Regions from separate parts of the Homo sapiens genome. Here region 1 is linked to region 2. A link means that fine-mapping ties the variant in region 2 to the expression of a gene that starts in the linked region. Tissue or cell type: whole blood. Region 2 holds a variant in brackets; the other region holds the start of a gene. All regions are shown on one strand. Distances are between the middles of the regions.

Region 1 (5,148 bases), 36 kb after region 2:
GGATACCTTGGTCATCTTGATCTCATAACGCTGGTATAAGGTGGTCTGGTTGACTTCTGGTGTCCCCACGAACTTGGCCCTGATGACTGCAGGAGAGGAGGGAAATATGAGTCAAATGGACTGCATGAGCCAATAAAAATAAGATCATCATCATCATCATCATCATACCAGCAAAGCGCATACATAAATAGGGGTTATTGGATGCCAGACAGCACACAAAGTGATTTACACATTTGTTCATTGATTCATCTGTATGTTGAGTGTCTCTCTTTGCCGGGCACTGCTTAAGCCATTTTCATACATTGATTTGTTCATTTACTCCTCAAATATTTGGGAGTGCCCACTGTGTGCCAGACATTGTTCTGGGTGTTAGGGACACAACAGTGAACAAAACACAGAAATCCCTTTCCTTGTGGAGTTCACATTCTAGCCAGGAGGAGACAGGCTAAGAACAAACAAAATAAGGATATGGAATGTTAGACATTAAGTATAATGGGGAATTACAGACCTGGGTAAGGGGCTGACAAAGATTCTTTGCTTGACCAAACTTTACTCAGGCTCCTGAACCTCCTCCTAGGCCCATCTGTGCACTTCCTTGTAAAATCCAGTTTTAGCCGAGAGCCTTGCTAAGTCAGTTTAGCAAGAACCCCTATATTCTATATCTGATCATCCTCAATCTCTGATCATCCTCAATACCTGATCATCCTCAATCTCTGATCATCCTCAATACCTGATCATCCTCAATCTCTGATCATCCTCAATACCTGATCATCCTCAATCTCTGATCATCCTCAATCTCTGATCATCCTCAATACCTGATCATCCTTGCTATCTGACTGGGTTCTTCATCTTCCACCATCCCCCAGGTGATGTCTGATTCCCCTTGGCCTGCCTTCAGCAAGAATCCTGTTACGTCGGTTTAGCCAGAATCCCCCTTACCCCTGATGTTTCTTCTTAGTAATTTCCACCCACAGACCCTCACACTGCTCCTTAGCTACACATTCCCACTGGCCCATGCTATATTCAGTGTTGAGCCCAATCTCTCCCACCGACTGCAAGATCCCATTGCAGTGGTTCCTATACCCATCACCATGGTCCTGAATATGGTCTTCCTTACTGTGTTATAACAAGTATCACTGAATATTTTTCTGTTTAACAGGAGATCAGGAGTACTAAGGGGCAGGGGTTAAAATTTTAAACAGGATGGCCAGGGAAGGCCATCCTGAGAAGGTGACGTTTGAGGCAGCCACCCATGTGGATACCTGGGGGGAAAGTGTACCAGGCAGAGGGAGCAGCCAGCATGCAGATCCTGTGGTGGGCTTGGGCACAGAGTACTCAAGGAAGTGTGAGGATGCCAGTGTGGCTAAAGCAGAGGAAGTGCAGGGGCGAGTGGAATCATTCTAGAGGTAAGTGCCATGGTGAGCCCCACTGGACTGAAAGGGAAACCAAGGCAGAGTGTGTGGGCTGAGTGGGGTGAGGACTCACCGAGGTCGGAATTGCAGAAGGCCGTCTGTGGGTGGGGTGGGACACAGGTGCAGGCCCTGCTGGGGGCTATCAGCCACAGCAACAACAGGATGCCAGAAGCCAGGGGCTCAAAGGGGGCCATGGTGGGTTCTGTGGGGAAGGGGGATGTCAGGCAGGCCCCGGCCCAGCTGATCTGCTGACCTGGGCAGGTCATCCACCCCATCTTGCCCCGGGGCAGCCTATGGGGGGGATTAGGGGGCTGGATTTGGGCTTGAGGGGTTGGTAAGCTTAGGGATTTTAAGGGGATTGGGGAGCGCAGAGGAATTTAGGGTTTAGAGAGTTGGGAGAGTTTAAATTATTGAGGGACTGAGTGAGTTGCGGGGTTATGGGGTTGTGGCACTTGGGGGAGAAGGGGGCTGAGGAAGTTTGAGGAATGAGGGGATTGGGGAATTCTGGAGGTTGAGGAGTTTGGGGGTGAGGAATTTGGGATTGGGGGCTGGAGGAGTTTGGAGACGGCAGAGTTTAGGGGTTGTGTATATTAAGAGATATAAGAGGCTGGGGGAATTTAGGGAGGTTGAGGAATTTGGAGGAGGTTGGGGGTTTAGGGAGCTGGGGGAGTTTGGAGGTTGAAGGGGTTGGGGGAATTTGGGGGCTTAAGGCAATGGGGATACTTGAGGAATTTGAGGGCAAAAGAAGTTTGGGAGCTGGGGAACTGGGGATTGGGGAGCTGGGGGAGTTTAGGGAGCTGCAGGGGTTAGCGGTGGGTATTTAGGGGGCGATGAGGGAAATTTCGGGATGAAGGAATTTGCGGGGGGATTTGGAAAGCATTTGTGATATTAGGGGGTCATGGGTTTGGGGGAATTGGGGGCGGATGTCAGGGGTTCTAGGGAGTTTGGAGCCTCGGGGTTGGGAAAGCAGTTCCAGCCTCCGACCCTCTTCCCCCTAGACTAGCCCAGGGTCCTGGTACCCGCAGGCCAAGCTGAGTAGACAGGCATCTGGCACGGGAGTGCACGGGCCTGGTGGCCAGCACCCAAGCTGCAGCCCAGCTCCGGTCCCTGCTGGGCCACCCCGGGCCCTGCTTACCTCTGGTGTCTCTCTGGGCGCTGGATCTGCGGCGATGGCGGCAGGGCCTGAGCGCTAGAGGATAAATGTCCACGCTAGGGGCGGGGGTGGCAGCGGGTGCGGAAACCACAGGCCTCCAGGCTTCCTGGATGCATTACTCATCCACCCACCATCAGTGCAGAAGCCAAGGGGCGGGCCGACGAAAGGAGATACACCCTCCTCCTCTCCCACCCGCCTCCTCTCCCTCTCCCTGGGCCTCGCCCGGGCCAGCCACCTCCCCCACCTCCACGTCAGTCACTATTCCTTCCAAGCCGCCTCAGCGGAGAGCTTAGAGGCCGCATTTCCCCCGGCCCAGTCCCCTAAAGTCTCCAGAATCTATCCAATCACCCACATCCCCCAAGCTCCCTATGACTCAAACCCAAATTAGTTCAGCCCTTCAACATTTATTGTGCATCTACTGTGTGCCAAGCACACAAAAATCCCTTGTTTTGTATGTCTGACATGCTGGTGAGGGGTGGCAGAGAGGAAACAAATTAAGTAGCAGCAGTGGAGGGAGATAAGGCAGGTGAAAGGGGAGGAATACAAAATGGGGAAACTGAGGCACGGAGTGGTTAAGTGACTTACCCAGGATCACAGAGTCAATACATGGCAGAACTGAGACTGGAACTCAGGTGGCCAGGAGCCAAAGCCAGGGTCTCAAATAACACAGGCAAATAGCCGGCATTTATACAGCACCTACTGTATACCAGGCACTCAGCATAGTTTATCTCACTCAAAGCTCACAACAAATCTCTGAGATGGGTACCGGTTCTTATTCCCGTTTTACGGATGAGGAAATATGGGGCGTAGAGGAACTGTAGAATTTTCCTAAGATCACAGGGCATGGCCGGGATTCAAACAGAGGCTACCTGGCACCAGGGTTGTAACTCAGGAGTGGCACCGTCCTAGCAAGCAGGGAATGGTGCGGGTGAATGAATGAGCATTGGGAAGGGGGTGGCCATGAATGATGGTGAAAGAAGCAAGTGAGTGGGTCAGTAGAAAACTAATCCCCACCCCATCCTGCCCTGCCCCCTCCCCATGGACCTGTACCCCTGGTGGGGGGTGGGGTGGGGCAATCCTTGCCCACCAGCTTTCTGACAATGCAGGAACCTTCCCTGGGGTTCTGATTAACATCCTTAATTCGAGGAGGATAGATCAATAATAATAATTGTAGTGATGATGGCAGCCACTTATTGAGCACTTTCTGTGTACTATGTGCTAAAGTGTTTGTATAAATTATCTCATTCACTCACCATACTCCCTTGCTAATTAAGTTTGATTAACTCAGGGATGATAGCCCAATAACAAGAACACAACAAAAACTACCAGCAGCCCTTATGGAGTGCTTACTGCGTATCCAGCACTATTCTGGGTGGGAGGAATGTGAGGGATGAGAAATTGCCTAATGGGTACAATGTACACTATTTGGTTGATGGGGACACTAAAAGCCCAGACTTCACCACTATGTAATATATCCATGTCACAAAACTGCAGCTGTACCCTCTAAATCTATTTTTTTTTTTTGACAAGAGTCTTGCTCTGTCACCTAGGCTGGAGTGCAGTGGCGCGATCTCAGCTCACTGCAACCTCCGCCTCCGGGGTTCAAGAGATTCTCCTGTCTCAGCCTCCTGAGTAGCTGGGATTACAGCCACACCACCACCACCCCCAGCTAATTTTTGTAGTTTTAGTAGAGACGGGGGTTTCACCATATTGGTCAGATCTCGAACTCCTGACTTCAGGTGATCCACCTGCCTCGACCTCCCAAAGTGTTGGGATTACAGGCGTGAGCCACCACACCCGGCCTTCTAAATCTTTTTTTTTTTTTTAGACAGAGTTTCGATCTTGTTTCCCAGGCTGGAGTGCAATGGCAAGATCTTGGCTCACTGCAACCTCCACCTCCTGGGTTCAAGCAATTCTCCTGCCTCAGCCTCCTCAGTAGCTGGGGTTACAGGCACACGCCACCACGCCTGGCTAATTTTTGTATTTTTAGTAGAGACGGGGTTTCACCATGTTGGCCAGGCTGGTCTCAAACTCCTGACCTCGGGTGATCCGCCCACCTCAGCCTCCCAAAGTGCTGCGATTACATGCGTGAGCTACGGCACCCAGCCTAAATCTATTTTTTAAGAAAGCACTTGGCCGGGCATGGTGGCTCACACCTGTAATCCCAGCACTTTGGGAGGCTGAGGCAGGCAGATCGCTTGAGCTCAGGAGTTCAAGACCAGTCTGGGCAACATGGTGAAACCCTGTCTCTATTTAAAAAAAAAAAAAAAAGCACTGTTCTAAAGTCTTTTTACAGACATTATCTCATTTAATCAATCCCGATTGCCTCTTTGTTCATTAATGTTAGTTAAGGAAGAGATGTTAAGCCAATAATAAGAGTACCCAACACTTCTTGAGGATCGAGGCTTACTGTATGCCCGATACCATGTAGAGCATTTTTCCCAAAATAACTAACTTATTTCTCACAATATCCCTGTGAGTTAGATATAGCTCATGTTCTCATTATACAGATGAGGAAACTTAGACACAAAAGGGCTGAGTGACCTACCCAGGAATGAGAATGAAGAAATGGCTCTGCTGCGG
Region 2 (5,148 bases):
TCAGAATCATAAAGATTTGACAGGTTCCCATATCCCACCTCTGCTTGGACTACCTCATTTGCTCATATGCAAACATTATTTGGTACCTACTGTGTGTGCACCATGGGATGGGCCTGCCTCTGTGGAAAGTTCTTGGGTGCAGGGGGAGACAGCCATGGGCACTGATGACATCAGGTAGTTATCGTGAGTTTTGGCGGTGTCCAGAGCAAAGGGATGGTGGCGTATATACCAAGTGTGTTCTGGTGTGGGGGTGGACACGCACCAGGGCTAGGGCTGCAGAGAATGTCTGTGTTGCAGATCTAGGTTTCTCCATGATCATCGGTGGGAATGTGTTTTGTCTGCAAGTGTATGCTCATATGAGTTTCCCTGGGTCTCTGTGTGTCAGTGTGTTACCTGTGTGTGTGGGGGTATGGGTGTATGCATGCATGTATGTAACATGCCCATGTGTGTTACTCTGGACTTGTATGTCTGTATGTATACCTAGATTGGCGTGTGTTCTGTCTGTACATGCCCTCGTATGTTTCCTCACTTTTGTGTGTGTTTATATGTGTGTCATTTCTTGTGTGCCTCCAGGCCCCCCTTGCCACCTTGGGCAAGGGTGTGTACACCACCCAAGTGTCCACCTCCGCTTGTCTGATGCTGTCTGTGACGCCCCCGCTCTCTGCCTAGCTGAGCCTGTGTGGATGTGGGAGACTAATCTCCCCGCGGGCACTGCGTGTGACCTCACCCCCCTCTGTGAGGGGGTTATTTCTCTACTTTCGTGTCTCTGAGTGTGCTTCCAGTGCCCCCCTCCCCCCAAAAAATGCCTTCTGAGTTGAATATCAACACTACAAACCGAGTATCTGCAGAGGGCCCTGCGTATGAGTGCAAGTGGGTTTTAGGACCAGGATGAGGCGGGGTGGGGGTGCCTACCTGACGACCGACCCCGACCCACTGGACAAGCACCCAACCCCCATTCCCCAAATTGCGCATCCCCTATCAGAGAGGGGGAGGGGAAACAGGATGCGGCGAGGCGCGTGCGCACTGCCAGCTTCAGCACCGCGGACAGTGCCTTCGCCCCCGCCTGGCGGCGCGCGCCACCGCCGCCTCAGCACTGAAGGCGCGCTGACGTCACTCGCCGGTCCCCCGCAAACTCCCCTTCCCGGCCACCTTGGTCGCGTCCGCGCCGCCGCCGGCCCAGCCGGACCGCACCACGCGAGGCGCGAGATAGGGGGGCACGGGCGCGACCATCTGCGCTGCGGCGCCGGCGACTCAGCGCTGCCTCAGTCTGCGGTGGGCAGCGGAGGAGTCGTGTCGTGCCTGAGAGCGCAGCTGTGCTCCTGGGCACCGCGCAGTCCGCCCCCGCGGCTCCTGGCCAGACCACCCCTAGGACCCCCTGCCCCAAGTCGCAGCCATGAACTACCTGCGGCGCCGCCTGTCGGACAGCAACTTTATGGCCAATCTGCCAAATGGGTACATGACAGACCTGCAGCGTCCGCAGCCGCCCCCACCGCCGCCCGGTGCCCACAGCCCCGGAGCCACGCCCGGTCCCGGGACCGCCACTGCCGAGAGGTCCTCCGGGGTCGCCCCAGCGGCCTCTCCGGCCGCCCCTAGCCCCGGGTCCTCGGGGGGCGGTGGCTTCTTCTCGTCGCTGTCCAACGCGGTCAAGCAGACCACGGCGGCGGCAGCTGCCACCTTCAGCGAGCAGGTGGGCGGCGGCTCTGGGGGCGCAGGCCGCGGGGGAGCCGCCTCCAGGGTGCTGCTGGTCATCGACGAGCCGCACACCGACTGGTAAGCCACTGCCGCGGACGTCTCCCGTGGGCCTGGGTCCCCAGATCGTTCTTCTGCGAATGAGCAATTATCGAGCGCCGCTTGTGTGCCTGACACCTGGCCCTCTCACCTAAATCTTTTTCCTTTAAATTATTAAGCTGGATGCTTCCTCTGTGCCCCGCCCTTGTCGCCCCCCTCCGCCCCTTAAACCTTGATGGATCCAGGGAGCAATTATCAGGCACCTGCTGCGTACCTGTTCCCTACTACCCCTCCCCCAAAAGTCTTTGGCTTCAATATATCCTATGAGCCTTCGAAAACCGAACGTGTCCTTCCTACCCTCCCCAACCCTTGCCCCATAGGCCTTGTCCTCTAATGGATCTTGTGAGCACTTATCTAGTACCTGCAGTATGCCTCATCCAAGAGCCCTTCCCCAAGGCCTTTGATTTCAATGAGGTTTGTGAGCATTCTTTGAGAGCCTGATACTGTCCTGTTCTCCTCAACCCTTGCCCTGAGGCCTTCTCTAATGGGTCTTGTGAGCATGTGTCCAGTCTATGCTATGTGTCCCACCCCAGCTCCGTCCTTAAAGCCCTTTTAAACTATTTAGTAAACATTGAGTACCTGCTGTGTATCCCACCCCAGCTTCTCTCCAAAAGCTTTGCCTTTCATGGATCCTGTGAGTTTTGATTGGATGCCTTCTCTGTGCCCCAACTCCAAGCCCTCTCTCTGAGGGCCTTTTCTCCAAAGGATCTAGGAAGCATTTGTTAAGTGCCTGATACGTGCCGCACCCCCAAACCCCTTCTCAAACAAATCATTTTCCTCCAGTGAGTTCCATGAGCAGTTTTGAACCTTCTTTGTGTGACTCATCTTCAGACCGTCTCCTCAAAGACCTTTCCCTACAGTGGATCTAGAAAACATTTATTGAGTGCCTCTTGTATCCCCCGTTCTCCAGCTACTTCTTCAAAGACCTTTCCTTTGGTGGATCCATCTAGCATTTATCAACTGCCTGCAGTGTGAGCCTTCTCTAAAAGTTCTTTCCTCCAGTGTATTCAGCAAGCATGCATTGACTGGTGCCTGCTGTATACCCCACCCTCAAACCCTTTCTGCAATACCCTTTCCTCCAGTGGCTTCAGTCTGCATGTATTGAGCACTTTCTGCATGACCCAACCTTAGACCTCTCCATAAAGGCCTGTGCCTCCAGTTAATACAGTGCTCAGATATCTGGCACTTGCTGTGTGTACCATTCCAGTCACTCTTTCCAAAGACCTTTTCTTTTAATCACTCCTTGGAGTATTTATGGAGCACCTGCTGTGTACCTGATTGTGTGCCTTCTTCACAAAAGCCTTTTCTCCTATGGATGAAGAATCGAGCTCCCATAGATCAACTTTCTGCACTCCCATTTCCCCTCCCCATAGGACTTTTCCTTCAGGGATGCAGTGAGCCTTGATCAGGTGACTATATGTCCATCCCCAGCCCCACTCCCCAAAGGCCTTTTCTTCTAATGGATCCAGTGAG[C/G]ATTTATTCCTTGTCTGTCATGTGCTCCATTTTAATCATCCTCCCCCAAAGACCTTTTCTTCCAATGGCTCCCCTGAGCATTTATGGAGTGTCTTCTGTGTGTTCTGTATATTCACACCTCCTCCCCAGAATTGTTTTCTTAACAGTAGATCCAGTGAGCACATATGCAGGACCTGTTGTTTTGGGGAGTACATTCTTCTTCCTTACCCCTAGGAGAGCCTGTTCCAATCACAAGGCCTCTCCCAAGGTCCTTTCCTGTGATAAATCCAGAGCTGAGTTTATAATGATCACCCCTTTCCCACTCCCTTCAGTACCCCTAGGATTCCCTCTACCAACTTTAATTCATACCCCCAAAGGGCTTTTAGTCTATTTAAGTAACACTTACTTAAGTAAACACTTTTACTTAATAGTTTTACTATTGACTTAATTTACTAAATAAATTTAGTAAATTTACTAAATTTACTATTTACTTAATAGTTTTACTATTTAAGTAAACACTTATTGAGCACTTACTGTATAAGTCACTTTCAACTTCCTCTTTCCAAGTCTCTGGAAATCCCTGACCCTGCCTCAAGAGCTCTCTCTCTAGGGGTCTACTTCAGCCTAAATGTATTGAGTACCAGCTGTTTACTGGTTAGATTACCTCTCCCCCAGGAGCCTTTACCGAGTAGCCTTTCTCTCCATTCAGAGCAATTTATTCATTCTGCAGATATTTATTGCATCCTTTCCATGAAAGTGTGGGAGGCATTTATTATGCACCATTATATACTAGGAATAACCCTTCTTCAGCTCCCCTTCCTTCTTTTTTTTCTAAATGCAGGTGTGCTTGAAATCCTCACCTGCCAGCTGGCCTTGCTATACCTTTTCCTCCATGCAACCCCACAATCATTTAATGAGCATTTATCGTATACTACTGAGAACCCTGCGTTAAATGCCTCTTCTCCCCTTTTTGTAGTCCCAATTCCCCCTTCAACAATCTCCATCCTGCCTTTTACACAACACAATCCTGAAAGCTCACAATGTGCACTGTTTTCCATTTATTCTAGCTAGGCCTCTTCCTCCACTTAGTAGCCATCTCCCCAGCTGCCTTTTTCTCCCCGAATTAGTCCAGAAAACACTTATTAATCTCTTACTGTATTATTTTCAAACAGCCACATTATCATCCCTGCAGCAGGCTTCTCCGCTTTTTTCTCTATCAATCTGTAAAGCATTTATGGAGCACGTGCTGTAATTCCTTCACCAACGTCCACTCACCAACGTGTTATCTTCCTGGTTAAGTTTGCTCCATTGAAGTCAGCAAACATCAATGAGGCCTCTGCTGGATATAGGTAATCACCCTCCTTTAGACTTCCGGTCTCCACTCCAGCCCTCCATGCAGGTCCTTTGCGTCTGCTTCCTTCTTTCCATCAAGCATTTATTATCTATGGAATACTGACAAGTCCCTTCCCCTTTCCATAATCACAAATTCAATGTTTTCCATTTTTTCTTTGTCCAGAAAACATTTATTGAGCACCTGCTGAATTCAGTGAAAGATCCATCCCTTCCCCTTCTGCATCTCAGAAGCCCCCCTTTATCCCAGCATCCCCTCCAGTCTTTTCTTCCAGGCAATCTAGCAAATATTTATTTAGTGTCTACTATATGTGGGGTGGGGTGGACAAAGGGACAGAGCCTATGTATGTACGCCAGGCTCAGTGTGGGGAACAGAGACCTGTTTTACCAACTTGCAGACACTCAGAACCACACTAGCTTCAGGGATTTCAGCCCCAAATAAAGCAGGAGTTGTGCAAACTCTGTGATGGAATGTACACCGAAATACAGTCTGACGCCTTTTCCACCAAACCTCACCACCCTCATTCCTTCCTGGGTCTCAATTCCTCTGTGGTTTAA

Evidence for each region. PIP is the estimated chance that this variant, and not a neighbour inherited with it, causes the effect.
Region 1: it holds the start of TIMP1, and the variant in region 2 is fine-mapped to the expression of TIMP1 in whole blood (TOPMed, PIP 0.93).

Annotation. Positions count from the first base shown.
Region 1 is chrX:47,579,874-47,585,021 of GRCh38, reverse strand. It overlaps TIMP1 (TIMP metallopeptidase inhibitor 1), which reads right to left and starts at 2,586. Exons shown (of 6, transcript NM_003254.3): 1 at 2,548-2,586; 2 at 1,486-1,614; 3 at 7-86. The coding sequence starts at 1,606. The region is part of intron 5 of SYN1 (synapsin I); the gene reads left to right. RefSeq lists silencers at 2,629-2,728, 2,789-2,938 and a cis regulatory region at 5,056-5,148.
Region 2 is chrX:47,615,974-47,621,121 of GRCh38, reverse strand. SYN1 (synapsin I) reads left to right here and starts at 1,265. Exons shown (of 13, transcript NM_006950.3): 1 at 1,265-1,770. The coding sequence starts at 1,394. RefSeq lists silencers at 1,042-1,251, 958-1,252. The variant C/G (reference allele first, on the strand shown) is at 3,262.